Regions from separate parts of the Homo sapiens genome. Here region 1 is linked to region 2. Evidence: fine-mapped expression QTL. A gene starts in region 2. The other region holds a variant in brackets. All regions are shown on one strand. Distances are from middle to middle. Region 1 overlaps CPNE5 (copine 5). Region 2 holds the start of CDKN1A (cyclin dependent kinase inhibitor 1A).

The links.
Region 1: its variant is fine-mapped to the expression of CDKN1A in whole blood (TOPMed, PIP above 0.99).

What each region holds. Positions count from the first base shown.
Region 1 is chr6:36,750,190-36,762,093 of GRCh38, forward strand. It overlaps CPNE5 (copine 5), which reads right to left. Exons shown (of 21, transcript NM_020939.2): 13 at 6,056-6,109; 14 at 2,845-2,906. Among named protein-coding and RNA genes, the nearest start is that of RAB44, 58 kb to the left of the region's middle. RefSeq lists enhancers at 5,173-6,372, 9,058-9,247, 9,083-10,051. The variant C/T (reference allele first, on the strand shown) is at 5,687.
Region 2 is chr6:36,673,690-36,682,743 of GRCh38, forward strand. CDKN1A (cyclin dependent kinase inhibitor 1A) reads left to right here and starts at 5,025. Exons shown (of 3, transcript NM_000389.5): 1 at 5,025-5,109. PANDAR (promoter of CDKN1A antisense DNA damage activated RNA) reads right to left here and starts at 1,437. Exons shown (of 1, transcript NR_109836.1): 1 at 1-1,437. DINOL (damage induced long noncoding RNA) reads right to left here and starts at 4,870. Exons shown (of 1, transcript NR_144384.1): 1 at 3,920-4,870. It also overlaps the pseudogene LAP3P2. RefSeq lists enhancers at 2,537-2,626, 2,677-2,746, 2,726-3,925, 5,118-5,307, 5,319-5,906 and 1 more and silencers at 4,838-5,067, 6,638-7,027.

The DNA of each region.
Region 1 (11,904 bases), 78 kb after region 2:
AAGATCAGGTAGGCCTCACCTCACTTGCATTTAGCAGAAGGTGCCTATCAGAAACCACAGCTCTATCAGCCCAAGATCCCTGTCACAGACACAGCAGAAGGTCCCTATCAGAAACCACCTGATCACAGCTGAGCTGCTGCTCATGGAACCCTCACTCACCCCCAGGGAAATGTCAAGGACATGGTTAGCAGGAGACCCCAGCCAGGGTCTGCTGGCCACAGACAGTCATCCCCACCTCTTTCTCCTCTTCTGCTGGCTGGGGGCAGAGCATCCAGAGGATTCCAGGCAGTAGGATAGAAGGAGCCGCAAAGCTAGCAAGAACCTGGGTCCCTGAATGACTGCGTGGATCATCTCCCCACCCAACCCTGCCATCCCACAGATGAAAAACAGACCTTTATTGGTATGAAGGCTTGAGGTTAGGGAATTATGTGTTACAGCAGTTGACCTACCATACTCATCTGCTGTTTGTTGTCACCCCCGCTTCAGTGTGGAATGTAGAACGCATGTCTTTGTTAGAGGTAGGGAGACATTTGGAGGGTGAAAGTCCCGCTCCCAGGGCCACTCTTGGGAAGATGATTCTGGCCTGTGGGACTATACTGGAGGGACACTGTTGGACTGGCTCTTCCAAATACAGGGTGAGGGGAAAGGCAGGCCTTGCTCTAACTAGTCCTCCCCTGCCCTGGGTTCTGAAAAGCCTTGGGAAAGGAAGCAATTGGAAAGCAGATCCTCTTGTGGGAAAATTACTCGCAGCAGCCTAGTGTCTCCTGCCTAAGGGTAGAACACAGGCTGCTGAGCAACCAGCTCCTCCTCTGACAGTGGGGCCAAAGTACCCATACCCTTCCTCCTGGGTCCAGGTGGGCAGGTGAGGGAGGCCAGGGAGGAGAGGATCCCTAGACATCAGCTTCCTGCCTGGGCATGCATGCCAGGCTCTCAGTCCCTGGAGCCAGCTCCCTCACTCAGGCTCTCCAGAGAGTTTAAAGAGAGGGCTGGCTCTGGGGCTATAACCTGCCCAGTATGGGTGGCACCAGCTTAGCTCAGCCTCTGAGGGCTCCTTTTCGATGAAACCTCACAGCATCCAGCCCTTTAACTCATCAGTCTCCATCTTCATCCCACCCCACCCGCTAACTGCAAGTCAGGCAGGCTAGACTGATTCATTACTATAGAATGAAAGGCAGCATGTTATGGGAGAAGGAACCCTGCCACCATCTAGGCGTGTGGCTTCAGGCAAGCTCTGTAAAATGGGGATAACTGTTCTGATCCTGCCCACTGTGTTCTGTAAGTTGGGGGTACTATGCAAATGAAAAAAATAAATAGGATGGACTGGGTGTGGTGGCTCATGCCTGTAATCCCAGCACTTTGGGAGGCCGAGGCAGGCGAATCACCTGAGGTCAGGAGTTCGAGACCAGCCTGGCCAAAATGGTGAAAGCCCGTCTCTACTAAAAATACAAAAATTAGCTGGGGGTGGTGGCGCATGCCTGTAGCCCCAGCTACTCTACTTGATAGGCTGAGGCAGGAGAATTGCTTGAACCCAGGAGGCGGAGGTTGCAGTAAGCCGAGATTGTGCCACTGCACTCCAGCCTGAGTGACAGAGCGAGACTCTGTCTCAAAAAATAAATAAAATAAAATAAAATAAAATAAACATAAATAAAAATAAACAGGATGAGGGGTGTTTGAGAGTTACCAGGTGCTATGGACTGTAAGGGGTGGCTGATTAATGGGATTGAGAGGGAAGCAATTTTGATGGGGGAAGAGTGCAAAGGCGGGGTCTGGAGTCAGCCCAGAGGAGGGGCAGGTAAGAGCAGAGGAGCTCCTGAGTGACTGGAGGCAGGGTGTGTGCTCAGTGGGTAGGAGGAGAGCTTGCAGCCTTGAGACTGCAAGCTCAAGGCAGCAGGGAGTGTTGTCATGGGAAAGTGAGTGTGGCTTCCCAGGACCTGACTTCTCCCTCTGCCCTGGAGAACCAGGCAGCCAAGGGTCCACTTGGCTGGGATGAGCCTTTGGCAGTTGCTCCTGCCTGTCTCCTTTCCAGACAGGTGCAGTCACTCACCTGCGGGCTCTTGGCTGCCCACGCCCTGACCTGGCACCTGTCCTGGCAGGCAGCATGCTGGGCAGGCTCTACCCTTAGAGCCAGGCTCTTTCCGTGAGCTGCTGGCTGGGGCCTCCTGGCTCCCCCATCTGTCTGGGCCTAGACACTGTGCCTGGTGGTTCTTTCTGCTCCTTAAACTCATGTTTGACCACCTGCTGGCCCCAGGACCAATCCCTGGCTTATCCCCAATCCCGCTGCCCTTACAGGGCCCTAATAACAGTGAGCAGGTTAATCACTGTCCCCCTCCCCCAACCAGACAGATCAGAGGTGTCAGAAGCTCAGAGCTGTAAGGAACCTTAACACTTACCTATTCCGTTCTCTTTGTGTACAGAGGAGGAAACTGATACCCTGAGAGGAAAAATGACTCACCCAAAGGAACCCAGCAAATTAATGGCAAAGAGAGGCCTAGAGCCTGGGCCTCCTGACTCCTATTGCAGGGTTCTTTCTACATCCCCAAGCCCTTGGCTTTCTGTCACGGAGTCCCTACCAGCTCCAGGTCCTGTCTCTGCATGGAGACCTGACATGACCCAGGCCAGCCTCCTTGGCTCAGGAGTTCCCTCCAAGCTGCTTGGGATCTGGGGATGTGCAGGGCTCTGGATGAGTTGTCTCAGCCCAAACACCAGGGTTTGCTCAGAGCCCAGCACCACAGCCTTCAACCAGGGCTTTGAAGAGGCCAGGGTGGGGCCAGAGCCGGTCCTGTCGGTGTGTGGGGCCCTTTCCCTCTCCCCAAGGCCCATGAAATTGGCTGTATCTCTTCTCACCCTCCTTTGATGTAGTCAAGGAAGGTGCACTCTGACTCCACAGCAAAGGAAAGCAGGGTGACCTTCAAAACAAAAGGGAGCTTGGTCAGTGGGGAGCCTGGGGTCAGGGGAGATGGGTTATGATTCGAGAGCTGACATTGACAGAACACTCGGCATGTGCCAGTTTTGCATGCATGACTGCATGCACTGCCCACACCACCCCATGAAGTACTATTATTATCCCCACTTTATAGCCAAGGAAACTGAAACCCAAAGAGGTGGTGCAATGTGCCCAAGGACACTGCCAGGGCAGAGAAGGGATCTGAAACCAGGGTGTGTCTGACTTCAGAGCCTGCACTCTTGACCTTGACGGAAGGGTCCCATCTGTGTCAGTGGAACCGGGGTCCAAGCCAAGGGTGTTAGTTTCCTCTAAGTGGGCACTGGCTCTTCAGCCCCAGGGACCTAGGGTGGGGTGTGGAGGACAAGGGGGCCCTCCTGGCACAGGCCTAACAACCTGCCAATGCCGACCAGCTTCAGGCTTCCATGTGCCTAGAGCTATTAGTCCTGAAATGTGCCTCTTTGGACTGTGCTTATCTTAAATCTTACTGGTCCCATCTCATCCCTCTCAGACCCAAGATCCTGCCTCATAAGTAGCCCATCCTTTTCCCCAGAGGTAACTGACTACCCCAGGCCCCCTCCCCCAAGCAGAGGCCTTTTAACCTATGCCCTGGCAAAGTTAGCTTTGGCTTTGCCAAGACAGGCAGCTACCTGGCAGCTCATTATCATAACAATTTAGAATCAAGGAGACAAATGAAAGCCTGGCATCCTAGGCCAATTATATGAGACAAGATTAGGGCAGAGGACCTTTCACCTGTGTAAGAGAACGAACTCCTCTCTGGTAGTTTGGGAGCCCCCTATTCATGAAGATTCAGCTGTTTTTACAGGCTCATTGGGAGGGCCAGGTGAGAGCACCACCCTTACTTGGCAGTAAGACCCCCAGCTATTGTGGTTAAGGTATTAGGCACCTGGATGAACCACAGGCCTCCTTCCAAGTGTGGCAGCTCAGACTTACTAGGAACCACGGCAGTGGCTTCAACCCTGACTGATGACCATGAGATGCCCTGGGGGCTCTTAGATCATCCTGCAGCCCAGACCCATTATAGCCGAGTTTCCGGGGCTACATGAATGTTTCAGAGATCTTCTTTTTTTTTTTTTTTTTTAGCTCTTCACGTAAGTCTAATCTGCAGACACAGTTGACCACTCCCCATTCCAACCCCCAGGATGAAGCAATGCCCTAACTGCCCTGACCATATGGGTTCACCCAGGGGCTCGCAGGGTGAAAGCAGACTTTCCCCTATTCAAAGGGTAGTGTCCCTAGACCAGAGCGTCAGCATCACCTCGATGCCAGGTAGAAATGCAGAAATGCAGATTCTTGGCATTTTCACAAGATCCCCAGGGGATTCTGCACACCATAAGTAAGGGATGAAAAGCACTAAACACAGATTCCTGGGCCTCCTAAAGTGGAATCCCAGGGAACTGGCCTGGGCGTCTGTATTTCAGCAAGCTTTCTGCATCCCGGGTGATTTTTCGCGATGAAGATGGGGAAATGCTGGAGTAAAAGGAAAGTCAAGAGACCTGGGCCTAGGCCCGCTCTGTCTCCAGCTCACTGTGTGACCTGGGACAAATCGCATGCCCTCTCTAGGCCACAGTTTCTTCGTCTCTAAAGTAAGAAGGCTGGATGAGATCAGTGGTTTTTGAACCTTTTTATTCCCAGCTGGGGAAGGTGCTGTCTTCCCTAGGGGAATTTAGGAAGGCGTGGGAGAATTTTGGGGGTTCTCATAATGACTGGGGCTCTACTGGTAGCTATGGGCAGCAGCCAGGGGTGCTAAACATCCTGTGAGATGAAGAATTTTCCTGCCCAAATGCTGACAGCCTCTCCACTAAGAAACACCGCAGCCTTGGACAAAGGAAATATGACTCCAAGCCCCAGTCTGTGAAGCAGTTACAATCAAAGAAGTGGTGTTCAGTCCCCTTTGAATGAGCAGAGTAATTTTACAGTTCACAAGCCTGCATCTCCCATGTGTCTGTCACAGCTGCCCTGTGCAGTGGCAAGGTGGGGATGATTTATTAGTCCTACTTTACAGACGGAGAAAATGAGGCTTCTCAGAGGAACCCCAGAGCTCCTGAAAACCTCTTCTAGGTCTGGAGATACAGTCTGCCTGACTCAAATGACCAGGCTTGGCTGCACTAGCCATGGGCCTCTAGAGTGAGGAAGGAACACAGAGAGGATGAATCTGGGTGTGTTTGCACTGCAGAGAAAGTGGCTTGTTCTAGAAATGCACTGTGAGCTCCACCTCAGGGCCTTTGCATGTGCTGTTCTCTACAGCAGGAATGCTGGAATTCCCTTTCCCCAGTATCCTCAATACTTCCTCCATTGCCTGTCCCTTTACCCTTTATACTTTTTCCATAGCTCTCATAATCAACTGACACACACAGGCATGTGTGTGTGTGTGTGTGTGTTTTTTTTTTTTCTCTGTCTCCTCCCACTAGAATATAAGCACCAGGGATTTGGGTCTGTCTTGTTTCCAGCTGTATCTGATGTGCCTAGAATAGTGCCTGGCACACAGTAGCACTCAGTAAGTATTTGCTGAAGAAGCGTATGAATGTCCTCAAGACCAGCCCCGAGAAGCCACTAGGCCGGCGTGTCATCCCAGGAAGGTCACGGTTAAGCAGGGGCAGCGCCCGTAGCAGCTGCCAGCTCTGGAGTGAGATGTCATGTTGAGTCCCATCTCTACCACTTTCTAGCTGTGTGACCTTGGCTGAGTCACTTTCCTGCTTGCAGCCTTGGTTTCCTCTTTCATGA[C/T]TAGGGGATGATAATATCTGCCTCTCAGGGCAACAACCTGTGAAAAGCACCAACGTGGGGAATTTCCCAGGGTAGGGGCCCAATAAATACGACTTCTCTTCCTCTTCCTTCCTGCAGGAAGTCCCGTGGATGTCTCTGCGATTCCTCATGCTAGATACAGCCAGCGCCTGTTGTGTGGTCTGCAAGTCAACTCTCTCCCCTGGCTGTTGCTCCATCTGCCCCACCCCTCCCCACCCCATCTCTCTTGGATGTCTGATTCCCACGCTCAGCCCCTGCACACACACAGACGCACGGGCCTCCCTGATACCAGACCTAGCTTGGGGCTCAGAATGTCTACACCCGGCTGCAGAGACCGGGGTGGCTACTCACTGTGCCAGAATTCACGTATTTCTTTTTCTTCATTTTCTTTTTCGGGTTTACCACCTGCAGGAAAAACCAGTTACCAGGTAAGGCATGCTTCCAGGCAGTCAGGGTGAGTCTTGAGGGCTTCCAACCACCCATGGGTGTGGTCCAAGCCCAGCCCCATTAGAGTGTGGGGTGTGAAGACCACGGGGCCAGGGGAGAAGGGTTTAAGGAGGATTTGTGGGAGACTGGTATTGAGTCTGGGTTACACAACTGGGTTCTCCCATCAGACCCAGGGTCCCACGATCAACCGGGAATATTTATTTAACCTTCTCTCCCACTGTTCCCCGGAACACACGCACCCTCCACCCAGTATAGCCAAAGAAGTCTTGATGTTGCAAAGCGGCCCTATCTGTACCTGTCCCTTGTGTTGGTTGAGGCTGCTCCCCTCACCAAAAATGCACCCCCTTCCTCTCTCAGCCAATTCCAATCTCCCCTGTTCCTCCTTTGGGACCCAGCCCAAGGGCTGCCCAGGGCCTCTGAGGCTCCCCTCTCCATCACCATCCCTCTTACTTGGCAGCAAGAACCTCTTTAGCTATTCTTTGAGTGTAAGCTTTAACTTCCAAACCAGACCTGTGTCAGATAAATCATGGGGCTAGGCTCAGAGTAGGTGCTCAGAGAAGGCTTGTTGGTGGCTAACTCAGCGGTCTCAACCAGGGGCGATTTTACCCCCAGGAACGTTTGGTAACATCTGGAGACGGTTTTGGTTTCCACAACTGAGGGGGTGAGTAGAGGCCAGGCATGCTGCTAAACATCCTACAGTACACAAGACAGCCTCCCACGGCAGGGAGTGATGCAGTCCCAAATCCCAGTAGTGCCAAGGCCAAGACTGGGCAAAGTGACGAGAGCCACCCAGCCCTGAGGCCCCCCACGAGACTTCCGCACTTACTGTATTTGTATTCTCATTTGACCCTCGCCAGTTTTTCTTTGTTTTGTTTTTAATAAGGGAAGTCTAGGCACAACTTTTCCCTAATGTCCCATCAAACAAAGCCAGGCAATTTTCATACCTCCTGTGCTGCCTGTTGGTTTCTGGTGAACTCATTTCCCCTTTCCCTGTCTTTGTTCCCACAGAGGCCGTCAGCTGATCTTTACCGTGGTCTCTTCTGTCTGGGTGAGTATTGCTATCTACTTCCAGCAAGAAGGAAACTAAAGCACAGCGACACCAGGTGATTTGCCTAAAGTCACACAGCCATCTGGGTAGTGACAGGATTAGAAACCAGGTTTCCTGCCCCCGGGCCAGTGGTGCATACATTGGTGCCACCTTGATAACAGATACAAACAGATCTCTTTGACATACATTTATGGGGTGGGTGGAGACATATATTGCTTCTCCCCTGGAATCATCTATCACCTATGTTGGAGAGAGAAGATATGTCCTCAGGGCAAAAAGTGACAAGGGCCATGGAACAAGGGGGATCACAGAAGTGTCAGGGGAGTTAGAGGAAGGAAAGACCACTCTAGGTGAGAGTGTCAGCAAAGCCTCTCTGGAGCAGGAAGTCTTGAAGGCAGACTTAGAGGCACAGGAAGGCTCTGGGCACGGAGAGATGGATGTCAGAGGAGGTTCTGTGGGAGAAATGAATAGAACCCAGGCCCAGTTTGATGGCAGAACCACAGGGTGGAAGAGTAAGCTGGGCTGGTTGGAGGAGAGCCTAGAATGCCCAGTGAAAAATGTCTGAATGTCACCCAGCGGCCTGCAGGGAACTCTGATGACCCCCAAGCTGGTAGGAGACAAAATCAGAGCAGGCTCTAGGACACTGGGGCCTGGTGGAGGTGAGTGTGAGGGGAGGAGGAGGCTCATCCAGGAAATATTTGCCTAGTTCTGCCACCTAATAATAGCTGTGTGACCTTAGGCAGGTTACTTAACCTCAATGTGCCTCAGTCTCCTCATCTCTAAAATGGGAATAAGAAGTACCTGCCTCCCGGAAAGGTATGAGGATTAAATGGGCCAATGCAAGCAAAGTGCCTAGAACAGTTTGGAATGTAGTAAGTATTATCTATACGTGTCTGTTGCTTTTTTCTAAGACGGGGTCTTGCTCTATGGCCCAGGCTGGAGTGCAGTGGTGGGGTCATAGCTCACTGTGGCCTCAACCTCCCGGGCTCAAGCAATCCTTCCAGGTAGCTGCCACCATGTCTGGCTATTTTTTTTTTTTTGGTAGAGATAGGATCTCGCTATGTTACTCTGGCTGGTCTCAAACTCTTGGGCTCAAGCAATCCTCCTGCCTCAGTCTCCCAGAGTGTTGGGATTACAGGCGTGAGCCACTGCACCCAGCCTTAGTTGCTATTTTTCAAAATTACTACTACTATTATTACTGCCACCATAAGTCCATGCGAGAGGTCATGAGGACTTGGGGGTATTGGGACAGGTGCTGAGCTATGGTGAGAACAGCGCTGTCAAGAAGTGACCACGCCTCTTGGGCCCTGGGCGTGGCTATAGAGGTTCGAGAGAGGGAGGGGTTGGGGTGACCAGGTAGACACAGAAGGAAGGCGCTGGATTTGGGGCACAGGTGGGAAGTTCACGTGGGAGGTCTGGCAAGCTGTGCAGGTAGAAACTGAGGGCCTGGGCGAGATGGTGAGAGAGCCCGGGAGAGAAGACCAGAGCACCCTCTTTAGCACTGGAGGACGCCCCCTCCACGGGGTTACCCAGATGGTGAGGTGCTCACGGACACATTCATGGGAAAACAGCTTAAGTAGGCAAGCTGTTAAGATGAGGGCAAAATGGCAGCCCCAGTGCTGCACTGTGCCTCAGTTTCCCAATCTCTCCCTTGAGGGTGTTGAACTATCGGAATGGACAGCATCTCAAACTTTTGCTCCAACATAGCCCTCCCAGCTGGGGAGAATGAACCCGGAGTCCTGAGAGTAACCAAAGATTTGGCCACAAGCATGTTTCTTCTAAGCTTTCTATGTTATCTTTAAATTAGCCTGTATTCCACATTTCCACTCTCTGATATAACTGCTTTAATGTTAAAGCAATGTTCTGTTCTCAGATCCCTGTTTACCCTGAGGTTTCATGCTCCCAGCCTCAGCCTCTCCAGCCCCGCCACGGTGAATCCCATGCAGGGGGCCAGCGCCACCTAGGGGCCAGCCGAGGAGCTGCCCCTCCACTAAGTCACCTCCCTTCTTCTTGGTGGTCAGGCGGGGACAGGACAGGTCTGGAATCTGCCCTCCTGCGCACATTAGGTGGGGTGGGTGGGGGCACTGAGGGGCTCCTAGGGGCCAGGAGCTGTGCTGGCTCTGGGGATGCAGCAGTAAGTGCAACACAACCCCCACCCTGAGGACTTCAAGGTCTTTGAGGGGTTGAATAGTGTCACAAAACAGAAAATAGCCAGAAGGAACCCCAGGAGCACTGACAAGTGTCCACTCCAGGCTCTGGGGTGGGGCGGGTGTGCAGGTGGACACAACTTCCTGGAGGAGGAACACCCACAGGGAGGCTCCGTGGACCAATAGCTCCTACCCAGGAGAAGACAAGAGGGAGTCTCAGGTGGAGGCACCCATATGAATCGAGCCCTGGAGGCTGAGACAGCACGGAGGTTCAGAGAGCCTCAGGTGGCAGGACGGGGATGAATGTGGGAATGGGCAGAGGGAAGGGGCAGGGGCCAGCTCCTAGGGGCCTCCAAAGGCATGTGATGTGTGTTTTTATTTACATGCACAGCCAGGCGTGGTGGCTCACACCTGAAATCCCAGCACTTTGCAAGGCCGAGGCGGGTGCATCACCTGAGCTCAGGAGTTGGAGGCCAGACTGGGCAACATGGCAAAAACCCATCTCTACCAAAAATGCAAAAAAAAAAAAAAATCGCCAGGGTGGTGGTGTGTGCCTGTGGTCCCAGCTACTTGGGAGACTGAGGTGGGAGGATAGCTAGAGCCTGGAAGTAGAGGTGGAGGTTGCAGTAAGCCGAGATTGTGCCACTGCACTCCAGCCTGGGTGAGAATGAGACTCCATCTTAAAAAAAAAAAAAAAGCACGCATACACAGATTGCGGGTGGCTGGCTGGGGAAACAGCATCCCAAATGAAAGAGCTTGGAACTTCACCCTGTAGGTCAGTGGATCTCAGCTGCGGTGGGAGCATCTTTCAGTATCTCTTCCCACCTCCCATGTGCGAACCAGGCTAAGGAGGTGGGTGGAATGCCCTACACAGATTTTAAGCAGGGGAGCGATGTGATCAGATCACTATTTTGGTGGAGTACGCTGGTTACTGTGTAGAGGACAGAAGGAAGAAAGGAGGCTGTGGCAAAGCCCCATAAGGGGGGAGATGATGAAGTTGGTGGTGGTGGCCTGAGATGAGGGGAACGATGTCAGAAAACATGGGTGGTAGGCGAGCAGTGTTTGCTCGTGGACTGGATATGGAATGAGGGATGGGGAAGTTAAGTATGACCCCTAAGGTGCCCTGAGCCCCCATGATGGGAATATTTGAGATGAAGCCGGCTCGCCAGGAGGACGGGAGTGCTGTGGGAGGTTTAGCTAATGTGTTCAGTTTTGGAAGGCTGAGCTACAGGAAGGGCCAGCAGACAGCTGGACATAGGAGCCTGACACTAGGGCAATGCCAGGGCCCGAGGCACAGGTCTTTACTGGCTGGAGCCTGTTCCCTTTTCAGGCAGTTCTGATTCTAGCAAGGCCTTCCTGCCCCAAACCAGCCTCCCCCTGGGACTGCCAGAGCTGTGCTCCTTTTTCAGCTGATGGCCTTCCGATGTGTGCAGACAGTGCTTCTGCCTCCCAGTGTGGCACTTTCTCTTGTTGATTACAAAGAAGCAGGGATCAACAACTGAGAAAACAAGTCAATTGAATGCTTTCTGCTCTTAGCCCGAGAGAAACAGCTCCTTCTGGGCCTGTCAAGCACCTTTAGAAGCCAAGCTCGGAGAGATCTGACCCCTTCCCTTCACCTCCCTAAATCTCCTCAAAGGAGGCCAGAGAATGGTGGCATCTGCTTCTCTCTGACTGGGGTGGGGCGGGGGAGCGGGGACAAAGACAGCTTCTCTCTTTGCAGATGCAGAAAACAAAGCAATGTACTGTATTAGAGCCCTTTCAAATAAATTCATCCACACTCCATCTTCACAATAGCCATGTTCAATCTCATTCAGCATGCGAATGTATAACACACCTACTGTGTGCCCGGCAGTGCCCTGGCCAGTGAGGGGAGGCAACAGACAGGGCTGTCACCTCACCAGCCCTTGGAAAGTCTAGTTGGAACACAAGACCTGCCCACTCAGAACCGACATGCAGGGCAAAGGAGTGGGGGTAGCATGGGATTTGGATTCAGTGATGGAACTCAAGGCCAGCTCTTCAACTTTGCTGGCTGAGTGGCTGCTAGCATGAGGACAGTGCCAGGATGGTAGGATGGTTGTAAAATGTGAACCTCTGGGCACACAGTGCTCAGCAGATGGTGACAGAAGACAGTGCTGACCTCTGGGTCAGGCATTGTTCCATTAACTTATTTAATTCTCAGTTTGCATGGCACAGAGTAGTTCAGAGACTTAGCCAAGGTCACGTAGCTAGTAAGTGGTAGAGTCAGGATACGAACACAAGCAGTTATTTGGGTTATAAGTATCTGCCATTAAGTGGGTTTGGCATGAACCATGATGTCTGTGGAAGTTCAGACAAGAAAGCACGGGGACAAGAGTGGCTGGGAAGACCTCACAGAGGAGCAGGACCTGAGCTAGATTTGGAAGGTGGGGAGGGAATTGCAAAAGGGAGAGCACACAGTAGAACGCGGTGGCTCAGGCCTATAATCCCAGCACTTTGGGAGGCCAAGGCAGGAGGATCGCTTGAGCCCAGGAGCTCAAGACCAGCCTGGGAAACATAGCGAGATCCTGTCTCTACAAGAA
Region 2 (9,054 bases):
TTGAGACCAGCCTGACCAACATAGAGAAACCCTCTCTCTACTAAAATACAAACATTGGGTGGGGCGAGTCATCGTCTGACGTCTGGCCGTGAGATGTTTCGGGAGCCGGGGTCTCTCCGCTGCAGACATGACGAAGGGCCTTGTTTTAGGAATCTATTCCAAAGAAAAAGAAGATGATGTGCCACAGTTCACAAGTGCAGGAGAGAATCTTGATAAATTGATAGCTGGAAAGCTGAGAGAGACTTTGAACATATCTGGACCACCTCTGAAGGCAGGCAAGACTCGAAACTTTTATGGTCTGCATCAGGACTTCCCCAGCGTGGTGCTAGTTGGCCTCGGCAAAAAGGCAGCCAGAATCGACGAACAGGAAAACTGGCAGGAAGGCAAAGAAAACATCAGAGCTGCTGTTGCAGCAGGATGCAGGCAGATTCAAGACCTGGAGCTCTCTTCCGTGGAGGTGGATCCCTGTAGAGATGCTCAGGCTGCTGAGGAGGGCGCGGTGCTTGGTCTCTATGAATACGATGACCTAAAGCAAAAAAAGAAGATGGCTATGTCGGTGAAGCTCTATGGAACTGGGGATCAGGAGGCCTGGCAGAAAGGAGTCCTGTTTGCTTCTGGGCAGAACTTGGCATGATGGAGACGCCAGCCAGCGAGATGATGCCAACCAGATTTGCCGAAATTATTGAGAAGAATCTCAAAAGCGCTAGTAGTAAACCGAGTTTCATATCAGACCCAGGTCTTGGATTGAGGAACAGGCAATGGGATCATTCCTCAGTGTGGCCAAAGGATCTGACGAGCCCTCAGTCTTCTTGGAAATTCACTACATAGGCAGCCCCAATGCAGACAAACCACCCCTTGTTTGTTGGGAAAGGAATTACCTTTGACAGTGGTGGTATCTCCATCAAGGCTTCTGCAAATATGGACCTCATGAGGGCCGACATGGGAGGAGCTACAACTATATGCTCAGCCATTGTGTCTGCTGCAAATCTCAGTTTGCCCATTAATATTATAGGTCTGGCCCCTCTGTGAAAACATGCCCAGCGGCAAGGCCAACAAGCTGGGGGATGTTGTTAGAGCCAGGAACAGGAAGACCATCCAGGTTGGTAACACTGATGCTGAGGGGAGGCTCATACTGGCTGATGCGCTCTGTTACGTGCACACATTTAACCCGAAGGTCATCCTCAATGCCACCACCTTAACAGGTGTCATAGATGTAGCTTTGGGGTCAGGTGCCACTGGGGTCTTTACCAATTCATCCTGGCTCTGGAACAAGCTCTTCGAGGCCAGCATTGAAACAGGGGACCGTGTCTGGAGGATGCCTCTCTTCAAACATTGTACAAGACAGGTTGTAGATTGCCAGCTGGCTGATGTTAACAACATTGGAAAATATAGATCTGCGGGAGCATGTACATCTGCGGCATTCCTGAAAGAATTCGTGACTCATCCTAAGTGGGCACATTTAGACATAGCAGGTGTGATGACCAACAAAGATGAGGTTCCCTATCTATGGAAAGGCATGACCGGGAGGCCCACAAGGACTCTCATAGAGTTCTTACTTCGTTTCAGTCAAGACAATGCTTAGTTCAGATACTCAAAAATGTCTTCACTCTATCTTAAATTGGACAGTTGAAGTTAAAAGGTTTTTGAATGAATGGATGAAAATATTTTAAAGGAGGCAATTTATATTTAAAAATGTAGAACACAATGAAATTTTTATGCCTTGATTTTTTTTTCATTTTACACAAAGATTTATATATTTTTTTTTTGAGACGGAGTCTCACTCTGTCACCCAGGCTGGAGTGCAGGTGGCATGATCTCAGCTCACTGCAACCTCCGCCTCCTAGGTTCAAGCGATTCTCCCACCTCAGCCACCTGAATACCTGGGACTACAGGTGCCCACCACCATGCCCGGCTGATTTTTGTATTTTTAATGGAGACGGGGTTTCACCATATTGGCCAGGCTGGTCTCAAAACTCCTGACCCTGTGATCTGCCCGCCTCGGCCTCCCAAAGTGCTGGGATTACAGGCGTAAGCCACCACGCCCGGCCAGTATATATTTTTAATTGAGAAGCAAAATTGTACTTCAGATTTGTGATGCTAGGAACATGAGCAAACTGAAAATTACTAACCACTTGTCAGAAACAATAAATCCAACTTTTTGTGCAAAAAAAAAAATACAAATATTAGCTGGGCATGGTGGTGCATGCCTGTAATCCCAGCTACTCGGGAGGCTGAGGCAGAATTGCTTGAACCTGGGAGGCGGAGACTGCAGTGAGCTGAGATTGTGCCACTGCTGACTTTGTCTCAAAAAACAAAACAAAACAAAAAAACAAAATGAAAACAAAAAGCCAGGGCTGCCTCTGCTCAATAATGTTCTATCTTTGTTCCGCCTCTTCTCTGGGGTCTCACTTCTTGGGAGCCTGTGTGAAGGTGAATTCCTCTGAAAGCTGACTGCCCCTATTTGGGACTCCCCAGTCTCTTTCTGAGAAATGGTGACATTGTTCCCAGCACTTCCTCTCCCTTCCTAGGCAGCTTCTGCAGCCACCACTGAGCCTTCCTCACATCCTCCTTCTTCAGGCTTGGGCTTTCCACCTTTCACCATTCCCCTACCCCATGCTGCTCCACCGCACTCTGGGGAGGGGGCTGGACTGGGCACTCTTGTCCCCCAGGCTGAGCCTCCCTCCATCCCTATGCTGCCTGCTTCCCAGGAACATGCTTGGGCAGCAGGCTGTGGCTCTGATTGGCTTTCTGGCCGTCAGGAACATGTCCCAACATGTTGAGCTCTGGCATAGAAGAGGCTGGTGGCTATTTTGTCCTTGGGCTGCCTGTTTTCAGGTGAGGAAGGGGATGGTAGGAGACAGGAGACCTCTAAAGACCCCAGGTAAACCTTAGCCTGTTACTCTGAACAGGGTATGTGATCTGCCAGCAGATCCTTGCGACAGGGCTGGGATCTGATGCATGTGTGCTTGTGTGAGTGTGTGCTGGGAGTCAGATTCTGTGTGTGACTTTTAACAGCCTGCTCCCTTGCCTTTTTCAGGGCAGAAGTCCTCCCTTAGAGTGTGTCTGGGTACACATTCAAGTGCATGGTTGCAAACTTTTTTTTTTAAAGCACTGAATAGTACTAGACACTTAGTAGGTACTTAAGAAATATTGAATGTCGTGGTGGTGGTGAGCTAGAAGTTATAAAAAAAATTCTTTCCCAAAAACAACAACAAAAAGAATTATTTCATTGTGAAGCTCAGTACCACAAAAATTTAAATAATTCATTACAAGCCTTTATTAAAAAAAATTTTCTCCCCAAAGTAAACAGACAGACAATGTCTAGTCTATTTGAAATGCCTGAAAGCAGAGGGGCTTCAAGGCAGTGGGAGAAGGTGCCTGTCCTCTGCTGGACATTTGACAACCAGCCCTTTGGATGGTTTGGATGTATAGGAGCGAAGGTGCAGACAGCAGTGGGGCTTAGAGTGGGGTCCTGAGGCTGTGCCGTGGCCTTTCTGGGGTTTAGCCACAATCCTGGCCTGACTCCAGGGCGAGGCAGGCCAAGGGGGTCTGCTACTGTGTCCTCCCACCCCTACCTGGGCTCCCATCCCCACAGCAGAGGAGAAAGAAGCCTGTCCTCCCCGAGGTCAGCTGCGTTAGAGGAAGAAGACTGGGCATGTCTGGGCAGAGATTTCCAGACTCTGAGCAGCCTGAGATGTCAGTAATTGTAGCTGCTCCAAGCCTGGGTTCTGTTTTTTAGTGGGATTTCTGTTCAGATGAACAATCCATCCTCTGCAATTTTTTAAAAGCAAAACTGCAAATGTTTCAGGCACAGAAAGGAGGCAAAGGTGAAGTCCAGGGGAGGTCAGGGGTGTGAGGTAGATGGGAGCGGATAGACACATCACTCATTTCTGTGTCTGTCAGAAGAACCAGTAGACACTTCCAGAATTGTCCTTTATTTATGTCATCTCCATAAACCATCTGCAAATGAGGGTTATTTGGCATTTTTGTCATTTTGGAGCCACAGAAATAAAGGATGACAAGCAGAGAGCCCCGGGCAGGAGGCAAAAGTCCTGTGTTCCAACTATAGTCATTTCTTTGCTGCATGATCTGAGTTAGGTCACCAGACTTCTCTGAGCCCCAGTTTCCCCAGCAGTGTATACGGGCTATGTGGGGAGTATTCAGGAGACAGACAACTCACTCGTCAAATCCTCCCCTTCCTGGCCAACAAAGCTGCTGCAACCACAGGGATTTCTTCTGTTCAGGTGAGTGTAGGGTGTAGGGAGATTGGTTCAATGTCCAATTCTTCTGTTTCCCTGGAGATCAGGTTGCCCTTTTTTGGTAGTCTCTCCAATTCCCTCCTTCCCGGAAGCATGTGACAATCAACAACTTTGTATACTTAAGTTCAGTGGACCTCAATTTCCTCATCTGTGAAATAAACGGGACTGAAAAATCATTCTGGCCTCAAGATGCTTTGTTGGGGTGTCTAGGTGCTCCAGGTGCTTCTGGGAGAGGTGACCTAGTGAGGGATCAGTGGGAATAGAGGTGATATTGTGGGGCTTTTCTGGAAATTGCAGAGAGGTGCATCGTTTTTATAATTTATGAATTTTTATGTATTAATGTCATCCTCCTGATCTTTTCAGCTGCATTGGGTAAATCCTTGCCTGCCAGAGTGGGTCAGCGGTGAGCCAGAAAGGGGGCTCATTCTAACAGTGCTGTGTCCTCCTGGAGAGTGCCAACTCATTCTCCAAGTAAAAAAAGCCAGATTTGTGGCTCACTTCGTGGGGAAATGTGTCCAGCGCACCAACGCAGGCGAGGGACTGGGGGAGGAGGGAAGTGCCCTCCTGCAGCACGCGAGGTTCCGGGACCGGCTGGCCTGCTGGAACTCGGCCAGGCTCAGCTGGCTCGGCGCTGGGCAGCCAGGAGCCTGGGCCCCGGGGAGGGCGGTCCCGGGCGGCGCGGTGGGCCGAGCGCGGGTCCCGCCTCCTTGAGGCGGGCCCGGGCGGGGCGGTTGTATATCAGGGCCGCGCTGAGCTGCGCCAGCTGAGGTGTGAGCAGCTGCCGAAGTCAGTTCCTTGTGGAGCCGGAGCTGGGCGCGGATTCGCCGAGGCACCGAGGCACTCAGAGGAGGTGAGAGAGCGGCGGCAGACAACAGGGGACCCCGGGCCGGCGGCCCAGAGCCGAGCCAAGCGTGCCCGCGTGTGTCCCTGCGTGTCCGCGAGGATGCGTGTTCGCGGGTGTGTGCTGCGTTCACAGGTGTTTCTGCGGCAGGTGAATGACGGGCGTGGGTCGGTGCGCGCTCGGCTTGCGCACACGGTGTCTCTAAGTGCGCGGGTGACGAGAGTCGGGATGTGCCGGAGACCCCGGGGCGGAGAGCGGGATTACAAGTACAGGAATCCCTGGTCACGCTCCCCGCCCCTGGAAACCCAGCTGGGGCGAGGGAGGGCGTGGACGGGACCGTTCTGGGAGCTCGCCTTTGGCTGCGGTTGGCTCCAGGCCCCAGGCGCAGTTTGCTCGCGGCGTGGGGATGAAGTCCGTGTCCCTGGAGGGGCCCAGGAAGGGCGAGGAAAGCGGAGTGGAGTAAGTTCGTCTAGGATCGGTCCCGGGTGGCTCTGGGATCCAATCTGCGCCGCCCTGGCCCAGGTCCCAGGTTCAGGTCCTTTACGCCACTGTGTCCACCACCTGGCTGAGCGCTGAGGTCAGCGCGGGCTGTTTCCTGGCCCTTGGGAATGTGCCAGGACCCGTCCCCTAAGGACTAGCGAGGAGGTGACTCACTGTGACAAGGAGACCCCAGGGAACGGACTGTATGAGGTCAGAACCCCGCCCGGGATGGGGTACAGCGGGACTCCAGAAGCCCTCTCCCCTGCCCCTTCGCGGTCTCCGTCCTCCCATCGGCACAGTGACCTATTTGGCTGGAACAGTTTGTTCCCAAGGAAGCCGGGCACTGGAGGTCCGGGACACCGCGTCGGGTCCCCGCTCCGCGGCGCGCTGTAGGGGTCGGGGAGTCACGGCCCTGCTCTGGGCGGGCTCTAACCAGCCTGTCAGTCGGGGAAGGGCAAGGGTCTCCTCTACCTCTTTCCCACCGCGGCCGGGAGAATCGCGGCCCAGCCTGTCCTCGGGTCGGGGCGCTGGACTCCGGGGCGGGAGCGGAGCCCACGCCTGGATGGGAGGCGGGGAGGGTTCATGTCTTTGAGGGGTGGGGGGTCTGGGGGGCACGACGCTGCTCAGGGCCTCTATCAGCTGCCTCGGGGGCTCAGGGCTTCCCGACCTAGCCCAGATTCCCTCTCCGAAAGCTACAGGGCTGAGCGGAGCAGGGGGGCGAGTCGCCCCCTGGGGCGCCGCCGCCTGGCGCGGACCACAGCGCGTCCTCTCCGTCCCAAACCCCTGGGGGACACTTGCGCCCTCTTCGTGAGGAAAAGCATCTTGGAGCTGGGTTAGGAACTTGGGGCGCCCAGGCAGCTTCCCCTCTCCTTGCCTCCCTCCACGTCGCGTTTCTGGGAGGACTTGCGAGCGGTTTTGTTTTCGTTGCTCCCGTCTATTTTTATTTTCCAGGGATCTGACTCATCCCGTGCTTTGGGCGTGGAGATAAGGTGGAGGGGCCGGCTCCCGGCGCGCGCGCGCGTGCGTGTCTGCGCGGGCGTGTGTGTGTGTGTGTGTGTGTGTGTGTGTGTGTGTGTCTGTGTCAGAGACGGCACAAGAGCGCGCGGTTTCCCAACAGCGGCGGGAGTTTCGGAAGCCTGGCCGGCTCAGCGTGACGTGTTCGCGGCCCCCCGGTCCCCTCCCATTCTCCCCCTCCCCACCCCAGGGTGACGCGCAGCCGGAGTGGAAGCAGTTTTGGCGGGCGAGCAGCGCCTTGCAGGAAACTGACTCATCACTACTCCCTCCAGCGGTCCGAGGCTCTGCCCACGCACCTCCCACTCCGCGCGTGATTTCCTGGAGGCCGGCGCCCCCTCCCGGCCCTGGCGGGAATAGCACACAGGCTTTCCCGCGGAGTGGGGCTGGCCGGCGCGAACCGCCGCGGCTACTCCTGGGCTCATCCGAGATCAACCCCTATGCCATTACCACCCCTTCAAAGGAGCACTCCTTAGGTTCAACAGTATTCACTGAGCTCTTACTGGAAATTAAAATATGGCTGAAGTCTAAGGCAGGAAGGCCAATAAAGGAGGCTATTTTTAATTGTTTCTAAAACAAGGGTTTGCGTTTCTGAGTTTTCTTTGGGCTGAAAGTTATTATGAGCATGAGAGCAGATTTTGATGGGGGAGGAGAGGCCTATGAGAGCCATAAGAGAAGGAGGGGTGGTAGAAGAGGAGAGGGTGCCTGCCTAGATCCTAGTCCTGTCTTGAACTCCCGAGAGCCAGGGAATATCCAGCACCTTGATGAAGCCCTAGGCGGGCGCCTCCTCCTTGTGCCTATGATGTATTGAGACCCAGAATGTCCATTTCAAACATACCAGTGTGTCTCCGCTTGGCTGGCAACCCAAGAGTGCCCATCTGAGGAATTGTGCCAAACACTTGCTTGAATCTTCAATCTGGATTAAGTTGGTCTCGGGAGGCAGGGCCTCAGCAATCTATATTTTGAAAAAACTCCCTAGGTGCTTTTCTTTCTTTCTTTTTTTCTTTCTTTCTTTCTTTCTTTCTTTCTTTCTTTCTTTCTTTCTTTCTTTCTTTTTCTTTCTTTCTTTCTTTTTCTTTCTTTTCTTTCTTTCTTTCTTTCTTTCTTTCTTTCTTTCTTTCTTTCTTCCTTTCTCTTTCTCTCTTTCTTTCTCTTTCTCTCTTTCTTTCTTTTCTTTCGACAGAGTTGCACTCTGTCACCCAGGCTGGAGTGCAATGGCACCATCCTGGACTCAAGTAGTCCTCCTGTTTCAGCCTCCCAAGTAACCGGGACCACAGGCGTGATCCCCCCGCCCCCATGCCCAGATTTTTTTTTTTTTTTTTTTTTTTTTGAGATGCGGTCTCGCTCTGTCACCCAGGCTGGAGTGCAGTGGCGTGATCTCGGCTCACTGCAAGCTCCGCCTCCCGGGTTCACGCCATTCTCCTGCCTCAGCCTCCCGAGTAGCTGGGACTACAGGTGCTGCCATCATGCCCGGCTAATTTTTTTTTGTATTTTTAGTAGAGACGGGGTTTCACCGTGTTAGCCAGGATGGTCTCAATCTCCTGACCTCGTGCTCCGCCCTCCTCGGCCTCCCAAAGTGCTGGGATTACAGGTGTGAGACACTGCACCCAACCACCCAGCTAATTTTTATTTATTTTTATTTTTAGTAGAGACAGGGTCTCAGCTAGTTGCCCAGGCTAGTCTTGGACCCTTGGGCTCAAATGATTCTCCCACCTCTGCCTCCCAGAGTATTAGGATTACAGGCATAAGCCACTGCCCCTGGCCTCCCCAAGTGATTGTGATGGGCCTCTCTGGTTAAGAAACCTCAAAATTAGAGAGGGAGTGGGGTTCAATACTACAGCACAGGACTCAGGGCAAACAGGCCTGGGTTCAGATCCTGGCTGTGCCACTTATGAACTGTGTGATGTTAGGCAAGTTACTTAACTTATCTGAGCCTTGGTTGCCTCTTCTGTAAAAAGGGAGCTAATAGATATCCACTTTTTAGGAGGATTGATATTTTTAAACTGCTTAGAACAGCCCCCAAACATAAAAATATATAAATAAATCCCAACTCATGCCTAGCAGAGGGTGGATAGAGGTTATTTGAGGGCTCTGTCCACTGTACTGGGTGACCCCTTTATGGGGCAGTGGCCTTTGGCCTTTTTAGCTGTATGACTCAGGGGCAAGTCTCATATCTCTTCCATCTCCTGCCCTTTAAACTTGGTGTGAAGTTACCAAGAGCCTCCTCTCCCAACCAGCTGGGACGTGAAACTGTGGGCTCCACTGATCACAAGCAGTGGGGTGAGGTGGGGTGGAGCAGATGTGGCATGTGTCCCGGGCTTCCTGCCTCATGAGGACTCAGCAGAGCTTTCACCCCCAGAAACTGCAAGTTGGGACTTGTCCCTAGGAAAATCCAGTTGCTGCCAAGGTCGTGCAGTCACTCAGCCCTGGAGTCAAGCCAGAGCAGGCAGGTAGGTGCCAGGG